4 linked regions of the Homo sapiens genome follow. The protein of the gene in region 4 purifies or fractionates together with the protein of the main gene of each other region. This does not show direct contact. Each region holds a gene or a part of one and is shown on either strand. Other genes may lie near its edges.

Region 1 (3,500 bases), on a different chromosome or scaffold from region 4:
ACCTGGGCAACAGAGCGAGACTCTGTCTCAAAAAACAAAACAATGTCCTGACAATTTTTGTTTTGAACTCAAAATATGCCTTTATTTGTGACTTTGCTTGCCCTCGGGGTCTCACCAGGGCTTCGTCTCCAGGTATAATCTGTTAGCAAGTTCTGTAGCTTCTATGTTCAAAGAACACCCAGGCTCTGGTGATGTCACTAACTCTTATGCTACCAACTTGGCCCCAACCTCCCTCCCCAAGTCATTTTCAGACCAGCTCTCCCCATTTCCACCTTCAGCCCCTGCAGTCTATTCTCAGAAACATTCCTTGAAATAGTCAAATAGCATTACCTCTCTGTTCAAAACCCTCTGATGGCTTCTGTTTCACTTTTAGTAAAAATTTATTTAATACAAGCCGTTCTGTGTCCCTTCCACCCCGCTACCTCTCAGTAACTACAGGGTTTCCTTGCAATTTTTCTCACCTCTCCATGTACTCCGCAGACATACACCTGACTTACTCCTTCCCTGCCTTCAGGTCTGTGGCCTCAGCCTCCATGGACCCTTCCCTGGCAGCCCTGATCCCTTCTCCAACATTCCCAACGCCCTTTTCCTGCTTTATTTCTCTTCATAGCACTTTCTAACATTTCTTTTTGAAAGTCTTCCTCACTTTTTCTGGAAAATGTGAGGGCTGGGGATACTGCTGTGTACCACGTCTCCTAATAGTTCTGATTCTAATAATGTGTTGTAAATTTCAGGATGTTTGCATGAATTAAAAACTAAACTGAATACAAGATAAAGAAATGTAATGAAACTGTATTAATGGGCCAACTGAATACCCGAGTATTATCACCTACCGATGCTAACAGCAGGCTGTATCCCAGGCTCTGTGCTCAGCACTTCACATGCAAGCATCTAGTTGAATTCTCACATCAAATTACACAGTACACATTATCCTCACTGAACAGAGGAGGAAACTGAGGCCCAGAGAAATTAAGTGACAGGCCTCAGGTCCAAACACAAATTAGCCACAGAGCCAACACACACCCAAGTCAGCTGGGAGACCAAATTACTATTAAGAATTCTTTCAAGCATGACAAAAGCTAAGCAAATTACTATGAAGTATTCTCTCAAGTATGACAGAAGCTAGGAAGTCAGATAACTTCTTTGCCACTAAAATCATAGCCAGTGAGAGCAGAAAAATATTTCAAACCCATTTCTAGCAATTAAATGGATTTTCATCTTTTAACACCACTAGATAAAAAATCATCAATTATAGCAAAGAAAAATATTTACATGTTTTGTTAACTGTATAGCAGTTTATTTTCTGTTTAAATAAAACATACTCAGAAGATTAATGATCACATTTACCTGCAGAAGTTTAAAAAACTCATCTTTCAGCTGATTTTCATCTAGGTCTTCAATAGTTCTTATCAATTGTTGCAGGTGAGTACATAAAGCAATGATGGATTCCTGTGACCCATAGAAATTTTGCTCTTTTGATTCTTTAAATACATCAAAGTAATCGATTGGTGGACTAAAGTAGGAGAAAAACAAAGTGAAACATTTTAGTTTGTACATTTGGATAACTGCAGTTCTTGAAAGAAAATAGCACCATACAGTCTCAATAATCAGTGCTAACAGAAACTAGATATAACATTTATCTAATTAACTAGAAAAACTTAATACTAAATAATCAAATTACACAAAAATCTCTCAAACTCATTTTAATTGTCAAAAAAGTTCCCAAATCAAGTATTTTTCTGGACATATTAAATAGTGATAGTGACTATGCTCATAATTATCTACCTAGCAGGGATTCCAGGGCACAAGAAGGAGAAAGATAAATTTCAAGACAACTGCTTTAGTTCAACAAACATTTTTTAACCACCGATGTGGCAGAGTTCCAGTAACAAATGTATAGAATATAAACAGAATATTTGAATACAATGCAGCAATCATTAACAGAATGAAACACAGAGTATGATGGAAATACAATGAGTACTTAAGATAAATCAGACAATACTATTGTAAGTTTTAGAAGAATGATAATTTTTTATCACTAATTTTAGGTATTTTTGGGCAACTTTAACCAAAGGTGATATATGTGGCATGGCTACACCTTCATGTTTTCCAGTGAGAGATTAAATCATATTATATTGGCCTAAGAAAATCATAACTAAGGAGATATAAATACTAATATAATAATCTTTACTGAATTGAATATAAAAGACATTCAGATTATTGGGTCTTCCAAATTAGCTACTTTTTCCATGGGTCATTCATGTTAGGGTAAAAACAATCTAACACTGATGTAATCGGCTTGATTTGTTTTGTTTTGTTTTTTTAAATAACATACCAGTATTTAAACATCCAAATGATGGCTGCCTCCTTCCAGCCAGTCAGTCACCTCGGGAAGCTACACCCTTATTCCAAGGGCGCTGCCATTGCTCAGAGCACTTTTGGAATTCCTCTTTAGGAATTTTCTTCAGAACCTATGGCACATCATTAAACCTCCTGTCAGTGATCACATATCTTCATCCTTTGGAGTCAATTTATTTTTGGAAACAGCCAAAAGTCACTCGGAGTGATTTCAGTAGAATGAGGTGTGTGATCAAATTGGATAAAAACTTTTTTTTTAATCAAAAATGAGTAAAAATACAGGAAGACTAATTTTCATTTTGAGGCATGTAAACTGGCTCTGAAAGAAGTTCCAAATAATTCAAAGATGGTTTTAGCAATGGCAGCACCGCTGAAATCAGTCAGTCTCTCAAGGTGACTTAAAAGGATAAAAATCATTCGGATGCACAGACCCAATCCGGCCCACCACCTGTTCTGTCTGACTCACATGCTAAGAGTGGTTTTTATATTTTTGAATGGCTGAAAACAAAGTGAAAGAAAAGTAGTATTTTGTAACACATGAAATTCAAATTTCGGTGTCCGCTGAATAAAGTTTCTTTAGAACACAGCCATGCTCATTCTTACATATTATTTAAGGTTGCATTCACACGACAATGGCAGGTTCGGCAGCTGCAACAGAGACCACATGGCCCCTATGCCTAAAAGATTTACTACCTGGCCCTTTACAGAAAGTTCTAATAAAACATGTTCTAATGTTTTATTAACAAACCATTCATTAAAGTCACATCTCATATTAAGAATGAGCCTTATTTTCGTATTTAAGAGAGTAAACTCACATAACTATATATAAATTCTCATTTTAGAATGTTTTCTATTTTAGAATCTACTAAAGCTGTGTATGTACACACACTATGACCCAGTGATTCACTTCTAGGGAGGGATATATCCAACAGATGTATTCATACATATGTTCAGCAAAAAAGTGTCAGAATGTTTATAGCAGCATTCTTCCTAACAACTCCAAACTGAAAAGTACTCAAATATCCATCACAACGAAGTAAACAGATTGTAATATGCTCATAAAATGCAATATTATAAAGCAATGAGAATGAATGATCTATAATTATATTGTAACATATGGATGAGTCTCACAAACATAAAAA
Region 2 (3,500 bases), on a different chromosome or scaffold from region 4:
GGAGAGCCAGCTCCCAGACAGGAAGCAGTTGAGAAATTAGGAACCCAGGGCCGAGCCCCTTTCCTTCTTGCCATCCTGCCCTTCTTCTCCGCCCCGCCCATCTCCAAGGCCTGTCTCTGACACAAACCCACAAGGACCACAGCCCCTGTTCCAGCTTCTCCCACAGCCTTTCCAGATGAGTCTGGACCAGCCTCTTCCTGGCCCGGCCCTCAGTTTCCCTAGCTGGACTGGAGCGGTGGCCCTGAGGACTCCCTGAGGAGTGAGAGCTACTCTTCTGTTTCTCAGATTATTCAGGTGGAGGTGTCCAAAGCCCCATTTTACGAATGGGGAACAGGGAGAGAGAGGACTTGTTCTGGGCCACAGCATGAAAAGGCTGGGCTGGAGAACAAACTCAGACTGCAAGCCTAGGGCTCCTGCCACTGCCCACAGCCCTCTGGCCTGTGACCGACAACTGGAATAAGGATAGGACAGGAACAGCATTGTGCGCAGTGAACACCACCTCCAAACACCAGGTCACCCCAGGGAAGAGGGGACTTCAGCCACAGGAGGCAGCAGTGCCCACGCTAGCCTACGGGATGGAGGGGGCTGGGCAGAATAGAGGAGGGGCAGTCTTATTTGGAGGAGTTGGCCTGTCCAGGGACTGAGCTGGGGACAGAGCTGGGGAACTGAGCTTGGACCCTGCCCCTAGGTGGCTTTCTGGTAACAGGCCTGCTGGCTCAGGAGAGGGTGCCCTCTGCACCCACTGTTAATGCAGCAGCCATCCTGATTATTACCCTGGACTCTGGAGCCAGATTGTCCAGGTTCAAACCCCAGCAAGTTGTCACCGGCTGGCAGACATTGCTGCTGCTTTTTTTTTTTTTTTTTTGAGATGGAGATTCACTCTCGTTGCCCAGGCTGGAGTGCAATGGTGTGATCTCGGCTCACTGCAATCTCCACCTCTCGGGTTAAAGCAATTCTCCTGCCTCAGCCTTCCGAGTAGCTGGTATTACAGGCGCCCACCAGCATGCCCGACTAATTTTTGTACTTTTAGTAGAGATGGGGTTTCACCATGTTGGCCAGGCTGGTCTTGAACTCTTAACCTCAGGTGATCCACCAGCTTTGGCCTCCCAAAGTGCTGGGATTACAGGCGTGAACCACCACGCCCAGCCCTTACTTCTGAATCTCTCTGTGCCTCAGGATCCTCCCCATGGAGCAAATATCTTAGAGGGTTGCTGTGGGGGTTACCTAGATAACGCACATGCTCGGCTAAGTGCTGCGTGGGCGCCCAGTGAATGACGGCCGTTGCTATTACTGCCTTTTTCCAAACTCACCAGGCCCTCTCGGCCTCTAGACTTTTTGCACAGGCAGTTTCTATCAGCTGGAATGCCTTCGGGCACTTTTTTTCTTAATTTTTATTTTTTAGAGGTGGAGTTGTTGCCCAGGCTGGAGTGCAGCAGTATAGTCATATTTCACTGCAACCTCGACTTCCTGGGCTCAAGGGATCCTGCTGCCGCAGCCACAGCCTCCCAAGTAGCTGGTACTCCAGGTACGAGCCACGTCGTCCTGCCCTCCTGGCACTTTTCACAGCTAATTCCTACTCATCATTCTAGTCTCAGCTTAAATGTGACCTCTTCCAGGAAAGCTTCTGTGAAGCCTGCGTCAGGGACCTCCTCTGTGATCCCAGTGCCCTGATTTCTCCCACCGCTCAGCTCTGATTGAATCAATGGATTCGGCTCTGCTACGAATCAGCTAACTTCTAGGCAAGTTGCTGGATCCCTCTCCTGGCTCAAAGGGGATGATTCCTTGGTTCTGTTGACTTCTCAGGTGTGGGAGTGGAGGGATCACAGAACTTGGGATTCTCCACCCTGAGGTCTCTGGAAGGAAAATGATGTGAGGCCCCGCAAGGGTAGAACCCGACCTGGAGAAGTGAAACCTCCAGGAGGCCAGGCCTTTACTAGCTTGTTTCTGAGCCCAGCAGCTCAGGACAATCGGCCCCGCCCACTTCGAGACTGGAGCGCGAACGCCCCGCCCGCGCCGCGCACCTGGCTGCCTGGCGGCCTCTCGGACCCGACGTCACGCACTGGCTCGCGCTCCGCTTCCGGCTCGGGGCCGTCGCGCGTCTGGTCGGCGACCCCCCGGGCGCCCCTCAGCCGCGCCAGCTCGCGGCCCCGTGCCTCGCACTCGCCCTGCGCCTCTTGGCGCTCGCGCCGTGCGCCCGCCAGCTCCTTGGTGAGCGCGTCCAGGCGCTGGCGCAGCTGGCGCACCTCCTCGCGCGCGCGGTTGCGCTCAGCGCGCACCTTGCTCCATTTCTCGCGCCAATTGGCAGTGCAGTCCGACCACCGGCGCATGGTCTTCTCCATCTGCGCCGCCCGCGCCCGCGCCTCCTCCAGCTCCCGCAGCCGCAGCTCCTCGCGGCTCTCCCAGTCGCCGTCGGCCAGCAGCGCGGGCGCGGGGGGCAGGGGCAGTGCGGGCGGCGGCCCGGGCGAGGGCGTGCCGCTGGGCGGCGTGGGCGGCAAGGAGTCGGCAGGCCCCATGCGCTCCGGCGACGGGCTGCCCAGGATGGTCAGGAGGCTGCCCTTGGACAGCTGCGGGGACTCGGCCAGCCGGGGGCTGGGCCCGTGGCTCATGGTGCGGCCGGGCGGGCCCTGAGCTCGAACTCGCGGTCGGGCTCAGGGGCGGCTCCGGGGACGCGCGGCGGGCGCGATACAACTGTGCATGATGACGCCGTGCCCCGCTTCCCTCTGGGCCACCGGGCGGAGGACGCCTCCTCGGACCTACGGGAGAACACAACCGTTATTGGACTGCGACCACCGTCAGTCTCGAAGATCAGCCGCGCCAAGGCCCTGGCGGAGGGAACAGAACGGCCAAGGTAGGAGGAGAGAGTTCTGTTCCAGGAGAGTCCCAATGAGGCAGGATTGGTGGAGCAAGGGCCCGCAAAGGCCTCCTCAGTGGCCTCGACTCCCTGCTCCAATCCCTTCACCCAGCGGCGCTAATCTGAAACCTTGATCTGTTCTTTATTCTCCCGGTCCCGGCTCACACACTGATGGCTTATACTATACTACTATGCAACTTCCGCACAGGACCCAGGCGGGGGCACTGGGCTGGTGCCAGGAGTCCCCTCCCTGCCTTTTCCTGCACTGGGCTAACTCTTCTCATATTTAAGACTCTTCTGAGGTATCACTTCCTCCTGGAAGCCCTCCTGGAGCACTTCAGGCCAGGTCCATCAGCCCCTTATGTGTCTCCATCACTGCACTAACTTACCCTGTCATTTATGTGTCTGCTGTGTACCTTTAACCAAGGCTGTGAGTTTGCTGTGGTCCAGGACTGGGTCCTGACCACTGTTTTAGTCCCAACACATGATGACAATGATATTTGTGGAGGGCAGGCCACAAGCCAGGCACTGTGCCCAGGGCTTTAGGTGAACGATCTCATTTATTCCTTAAAGAGTGGAGGTGAAGAAAATGATTACCTCCATTTATGGTATCTATGAGTACAAATTCAAACTCTAGTAAGGATTTGCT
Region 3 (3,500 bases), on a different chromosome or scaffold from region 4:
TATTCAGGCAGCTACCGCTTATGCAACACTTTTCATAATCTTTTAAAAACTATTTTTAAACATTTTTTCATAATCTTAATAAAATCATTTGACAGTTCCGCTTAGCTGAAATGATACAGCCTACATTTTATGTGGTAAATATCATTATATAAATATTTCTGTGTTCATGTAATTTTTGTGTTTAAACCCTCAAAAAATCAAGTAATGGGACATCATCTTTTATGTCATGTGAATACTACCAATTAAATCTCTGTAGTCAAATGTTATAAAGTATCGAGATTTTCATTTAAAAATGTTCTAGCAGCTGGGCACAGTGGCTCATGCTGTAATCTCAGCACTCTGGGAGGCCAAGGTGGGTGGATCACTTGAGGTCAGGAGTTTGAGACCAGCCTGGCCAACATGGTGAAACGCTGTCTTTACTAAAAATACAAAATACAGGCACATGCCTGTGATCCCAGCTACTCGGGAGGCTGAGGCAGGAGAAGCACTTGAACCTGGGAGGCCGAGGTTCCAATAAGCCAAGATTGTGCCACTGTACTCTAGCCTGGGTGACAGAGCGAGATTCCAACTCTAAATAACGAAATAATGTTCTAGCATTTGTAGAAGTTTGAGCAACTAAATTAAGTAAAACTAATCTAAGAAAAGACATTAAATAATGACTACTTAATTTTTATTGTAGGAAATACATAAAAATAACAGAACACAAGTCTGAGCACAAATGTAATTACATTCTATTAAGAGGAAAGAGCTAGTTACAAGCCACTTTGTAAGATATTATTTTGTAAAAAGATAACTACTACATAGAGCTATTATCTATATATGTAAAGAAAAAACTCTGGAAGGCTATATGCTAATAGTGGCTTATCTCAAAATGGTGAGATTACATTATTTCTTTTTATTTACATTTTCTTATGTTTTCTGAATTTTATTTATAACTGGTATATAATACTTTTATTACAAAAACAAGCAATCTCTGTTTGAAGAGAAGCAACAAGTAAAAGCCAAAATCTTCAACCAGAAAATGAAGCTGCTATTGTCATGTGTCCCACACATTCCTCATCATAAAATACCGTAACCAGTGTTTGGAAGCAAGATTATCAATAAACAAAATAAGATCTTCATATTTCTAGCTTGAACACTTATTTTTATATCCTATTCACACTTAATGCATTTTCTTTACATAAACATCGACCATTTTCCTTACAGATTTTTTCTGTACATACGTACACGTACATATACACACCTGAGAGCATTTAGAAGACCTTCCACACTATTAGGAGGTTGGTCCTTAAGAACTTTGATACAACCTTTCATCTAAAGAAAAAGAAAACAGAAAAGGTAAAACAGCCATTTTTTTCATGTAACATTCCTTTTCAAAATAGTAAAATAAATCAAGACCATAACTATGGAACTCAAGAGATTACATACTATGTCAAATTAATTATTCTTAGAACAGAAAAAAACCCAACCTAAGAGTTATTATTCTCACTTAGTGAAAACAAAATCTTTTTGAGAACAAAATCAGTCAAACTAATATACCACACATGCAATGAAAAACAAACGGTTTGCTAAGGGAAGACTTCTGGAAAAGGTGCTGAGTGGCGATTTAAAGGACAGAATGGGCTGGGCAGGGTGGCTCAGGCCTGTAATTCCAACACTTTGGGAGGCTGAGGCGGGCGGATCACAAGGTCAGGAGTTCGAGACCATCCTGCCTAACACGGTAAAACCCCGTCTCTACTAAAAATACAAAAAAATTAGCCAGGCGTGGTGGTGGGCGCCTGTAGTCCCAGCTACTCGGGAGGCTGAGGCAGGAGAATGGCGTGAACCCAGGAGGCAGAGCTTGCAGTGAGCCGAGATCGCACTACTGCACTCCAGCCTGGGTGACAGAGCGAGACTCCGTCACAAAAAATAAAATAAAATAAAAAATAAAGGACAGAATGAGTATGTTACTAAGGAAAAGAAGAACTTTCAGGTAGAGAAACCTCACAGAGTAAAGTATCACACAGAGGACAGATAGGAATTTTTCAGCACTGCACCTGGAGTTATGAGAGGCTGAAAGCCAGGATGAGTTATACGAAGTGTTATGCCTGGCAGCAGGGGACTCACAGGTTATTTTAAAAGGTAACCACTTGATGACGATGGTATTTAAGATATATTAGCCTGGTTGTTATAAAAAAGCATAATACAGCAGAAAGAACACAGGCTTTGGAAGCCAGAGAAATGTGGGTTCTACCTTTTCTAGCAACTCTTTTTATTTTTGAGATGGAGTCTCGCTCTGTCACCCAGGCTGGAGTGTAGTGGCGCAATCTTGGTTCACTGCAACCTCTGCCTCCTGGATTTAAGCGATTCTCCCACCTCAGCCTCCCGAGTAGCTGGGACTACAGATGTGTGCCACCACACCCAGCTAATTTTTGTATTTTTTTTCAGTAGAGATGAGGTTTCACCATGTTGGCCAGGCTGGTCTTGAACTCCTAACCTTAGGTGATCCGCCTGCCTCGGCCTGCCAAAGTGCTGGGATTACAGGCATAAACCACTGCACCCGGCCTACTAGCAATTCTATTACTTGATCTGCTAAACTTTAGTTGCCCTGTCAGTAAAGGGAGATGACACCTAAAAGAGTATTTTCAGAGTCACAAGGGAGAACAAACGTAAAATTCCTGGGACATGGCAACCATACAGTAAATATTAACTCATTTCTCTTTACATATGACAGGTGTACATGAAGGCAACAAGCTTGGCTAGTAATCAGTAATCGAGATCCGAAATGCTAAGAGCCTAAACTAGCTATGAAAGGGAAACGGGAAGACAATTCTCACCAAACACTAATGAACTAGATGTGAGAGGTTGGGGAAAGAAACTACGAAGTAGAGAAATTAGAAAACTATTTCTAATACAAACTTTTACAGAGAGAAGAAAAGTCGAGAGCCAACTATAGTCACAAATTATTATGACTAGGTAGGGGAGGGAAAATACATAAAGTCTTCATCTTTTTCCACTGGAGCATCCTACTGGCTGTCTTTTTAATTTCAAGACAGGGTCTCTCTCTCACCCAGACTGAATGCAGTGGTGTGATCGTGGCTCACTGCAGGCTGGAACTCCTGGGCTCAAGGGATCCTCCCACTTCAGCCTCTCAACGTAGCTGTGACTACCGATGTGTGCCACCACACCTGGCTAATTTTTTTTTTTTTTTTGTAGAAATGGGGGTCTCACTATGCTGCCCAGGCTGGTCTTCTACTCCTGGGCTCAAGTGATCCTCCTGCTTCAGCCTGCCAAAGTGCTTGGGCTACAGGCATGAGCCAGCACGCCCAGCAGCACTACTGACTTTTTATATGCATTCTGAAATAAACATTTTATTTGAAATGGCCTTTGGCCAAAGGAATTAAAGGATATGACTCAAAATTCCTTATATCTAATTATCTATTTATATTGCCAAATACGTAGTAGAAGCCTTCCAGGAGGTACTCACTAGACAATATAGTCATCCTTTGATCATTCTATTC
Region 4 (3,500 bases):
GAGGCACAGGTGCAAAGGCCCACATCACCTGAAGGAAGTGGAGCCTGTGCAGAGAGGAAGAAAACTCAAATACTCCAGCGGGCCCTCTGAGCCCACCATATCCACATAACAAGAATGGATATTACAAAAAGGTATCAAAGAAAAATTAAAGATTGAGCAAAAAATCACAGAAATAGTACAAGAAAACATCCCGGAACTAGAGGACGTGAATTTCCAGAATCAAAACCGTCTGTGAGAAGCCAGCACAACAGCTGAGTAAAAGACCCATACCCTGGTGTTAATACACATCATAAAACTGCAGAACACCAGAGATAGAGAATATCCTCAAAGCTTCCAGAAGGGGAGAAAACAAACAAAATACGGTCACGTAAGAAGGATTTAAATCACCACATCTCTAGAGCAATTACAGATGCCTTCAACATTCTGAGAGAACCTTATTTCCAATCTAGAATTATATAACTGCCAAACTATCAAACAAGTGTGTGGGCAAAACCAGGTCATTCAAATACTTCTTAGAAATAACTGAAGTATATGCTTTTAAAAAATAAAGACATAAGCCCAGAAAGAGGAAGATACGGTTCCTGCACAGGAAAGGGCAGGTCCAGGAGGACCCCAGGCAGCAGTTCTTGAGAGCAACAGTAAAGGCAGGAGGAGGGGGCAGGGCTCCAATAAACAGGTGATACATTTGAGCTCACAGAAAATGTTACTGATAAGAATGTGACAAATACATTGGAGCATGTGGGAAAAAAATTAACAGTAGGTACATGAAAAACACAGGTGAAGGCCAACCTACACACCAGGAGGAACACACTGTAATAGATCATCCAGCTCAACAGTGAACAGTATTTGACAGAGGTGTAAGTACATAAAAGCTACCTGTTTTAGCAAAAAATTACAATAGAACTATATTAGGGGATAGAGGGCATGGAAAAATAGGAAAGTGGTGGGATGCAAGAGCTAAATACAAATCTATCACAACAAGAAATCAACAGGCCAAACATGAGGGGAAAACCAAGAAAGAATAACAAACCAACTATTTAGCAACAAGAAGATACAGCAGACTCTCAAAAAAAGTCTTTTTGTTCAACATCGTTTTTTCATAACATTGATGAGAGAATAAGTGATTCCTGGCTGAGGCTACCCGTTTGTGTGGAGTTGGCATGCTCCCCATGTCTGTGTGGGTTTTCTCCAGGTATTCTGCTTTCCTCCCACGTCTCAAAGATGTGCCTGCTAGGTTAGCTGGTGTGTCTAGATGGTCCCTGTGTTTGTGTGTGTGTGCATGCACACCCTATGGCATAGACAGCGTCCTGTCCAGGGCTGGCGCCTGCCTTGTGCCCTGAGCTGCCAGCATAGGCTCCAGCCACCTGTGAGCCTAAGCTGGAAAATAAATGAATGAATACAAATTACCAGCAAATAAAAATCTGCAAAGTCTATGGTAATCATCCAAATGCACAACAATAAATGATGTGGTACAATAGCTCTCAGTGAGCCTGCCCTATTGGTGATTGATTGCTTTGGAAATGAGTATGGTGGTAGGAAATGCTTCTGACAATTTTCACTTTGCACACATTTATTCCTTGATTTAACCCACCACCACTATGACTGCAGTAACTCACTGACTCACCAAAAAGTGGGTGAAAATCTTACTTGTTTCAGTGTTTCATATTAGAAATGTTTGGGTCTTTATTTAGAAATTGGGTATGTTTTTGTGACCAGAAAAACGCCATAGAAACCATATGGTAAAACTGGTTTTGTTATATCATGTTTCAAGAATACTGATGGTGTTGACCACTTACTGTAAAGACAGAGGAAAAGAGGAAAACAACTGAGTGGTTGCCTCTAAAGAATGGGACTTTGAGGTAGGGAGGGCAGAGAAACGGTTTTTGTTTTGTTGGGTTTTTTTTTGGTGACAGAGTCTCGCTCTGTCACCTAGGCTGGAGTGCAATGGTGCGACCTCGACTCACCGCAACCTCCATCTCTCCAGTTCCAGCGATTCTCCTACCTCAGCCTCCCAAGTAGCTGGGATTACAGGCACACACCACCATGCTCAGCTAATTTTAGTATTTTTAGTAGAGATTGGGTTTCACCATGTTGGCCAGGCTGGTCTTGAACTCCTGACCTCAGGCAATCCACCTGCCTCAGCCTCCCAAAGTGCTGGGATTACAGGTATGAGCCACTGGACCTGGCCTGAGAAACTGTTTTTTAATTCCAAATCTTTTATTACTATTTGACTTTTAAACTGTATTACACAAATTACTTTTTCTTTTTTGAGATGGGTCTGTCTCTGTCACCCAGGCTGGAGTGCAGTACTGCAATCATGGTTCACTGCAGCTGCAGCCTTGAATTCCCGGGCTCAAATGATCCTCCCACCTCAGCCTCAAGGGTTAGTTAGGACCATAGGTGCGTCACCATGCCCAGCTAATTTTGTGATTTTCTGTAGAGACGAGGTCTTGCTATGTTGCCCAGGCGATCTCAAACTCCTAGGCTCAAAAGATCCTCCCCGCTAGGCCTCCCAAAGTGCTGGGATTAAGGTGTGAGCCATGCACCCCACCCCCATTTAGGACATTTTTTTTTTTTTTTTTTTTGAGACGGAGTCTCATACTTTCACCCAGGCTGGAATGCAGTGGCGCGATCTTGGCTCACTGCAAGCTCTGCCTCCTGGGTTCACGCCACTCTCCTGCCTCAGCCTCCCGAGTAGCTGGGACTACAGGTGCCTGCCACCACGCCCAGCTAATTTTTGTATTTTTAGTAGAGACAGGGTTTCACCGTGTTAGCCAGGATGCTCTCCATCTCCTGATCTCGTGATCCGCCCACCTCGGCCTCCCAAAGTGCTAGGGTTACAGGCGTAAGCCACCGCGCCTGGCCAGAAATCTTAAAAGTATATTCCAACACCACTCAATGAAGTAACCTCCAAACATAAACATTAGCTCAGTGGCAAAAAGTTAAATTCTGGGGACAAGAGCAGAATCCAGTTTCTTAGTATCAATGCTAAATGTATTCAAGATAAATCTGAAATAAATCCCACTAATTCGGGCTGAAAGAGAAGTATTTCAGTATCAGTGGAAAATCTTCATAGACTAGAAACAGAGTTGCAAAAATCTTTCAAATGACAAAAAACTGAAGCCCAAATTATTTGTTCAAGTACGCAGCGGCTGAACTGGAACTAGTCCCACATCTCCTGGCTCCCAATGACTGTACTTTCCAGGGCACCTCCCAAGAGTTCCTGCTAATTGCCTCCTTTAATCTCTCTAAAACCATAAAACAATGTCCAAGTACTTCCTGCTCTTCAAGGAAATGGAATCGCTGGTTAATCTGCAACTAGCAAATCACAGTTTGAGGAGGCGTAACTTAACTTTATACCACTAATTAACCTTAAATTTGTGATAAACGCAAGTTCCTTTATTAGTTAGTCCTTGTTTGTTTATATTTGCGAAATACTAATGCAGCCTTTTTGTTCCTGAATAGACTAGGAAATATCTTTAAAAAGAAACTATCAAGTT

Evidence for each region. Proteins that work in one complex are often made in the same cells at the same time.
Region 1: the proteins of FAM118B (region 4) and DCPH1 purify together in Homo sapiens (affinity purification with mass spectrometry; one large-scale study listed by BioGRID and IntAct). This does not show direct contact.
Region 2: the proteins of FAM118B (region 4) and CCDC102A purify together in Homo sapiens (affinity purification with mass spectrometry; one large-scale study listed by BioGRID and IntAct). This does not show direct contact.
Region 3: the proteins of FAM118B (region 4) and CYRIB purify together in Homo sapiens (affinity purification with mass spectrometry; one large-scale study listed by BioGRID and IntAct). This does not show direct contact.

The regions. Positions count from the first base shown.
Region 1 is NC_000006.12:151,462,466-151,465,965, reverse strand, and holds part of DCPH1 (damage-control phosphatase ARMT1), read right to left. Parts: intron 1,514-3,500; coding exon 1,348-1,513; intron 1-1,347. UniProt on the Homo sapiens protein: Metal-dependent phosphatase that shows phosphatase activity against several substrates, including fructose-1-phosphate and fructose-6-phosphate.
Region 2 is NC_000016.10:57,526,572-57,530,071, forward strand, and holds part of CCDC102A (coiled-coil domain-containing protein 102A), read right to left. Parts: intron 2,849-3,500; coding exon of another isoform or gene 2,695-2,848; 5' UTR 2,607-2,694; coding exon 2,022-2,606; intron 1-2,021. Other genes in the region: ADGRG5 (adhesion G-protein coupled receptor G5), read left to right, coding at 2,695-2,848.
Region 3 is NC_000008.11:129,845,561-129,849,060, forward strand, and holds part of CYRIB (CYFIP-related Rac1 interactor B), read right to left. Parts: intron 1,315-3,500; coding exon 1,244-1,314; intron 1-1,243. UniProt on the Homo sapiens protein: Negatively regulates RAC1 signaling and RAC1-driven cytoskeletal remodeling. Regulates chemotaxis, cell migration and epithelial polarization by controlling the polarity, plasticity, duration and extent of protrusions.
Region 4 is NC_000011.10:126,214,782-126,218,281, reverse strand, and holds part of FAM118B (protein FAM118B), read right to left. Parts: intron 1-3,500. UniProt on the Homo sapiens protein: May play a role in Cajal bodies formation.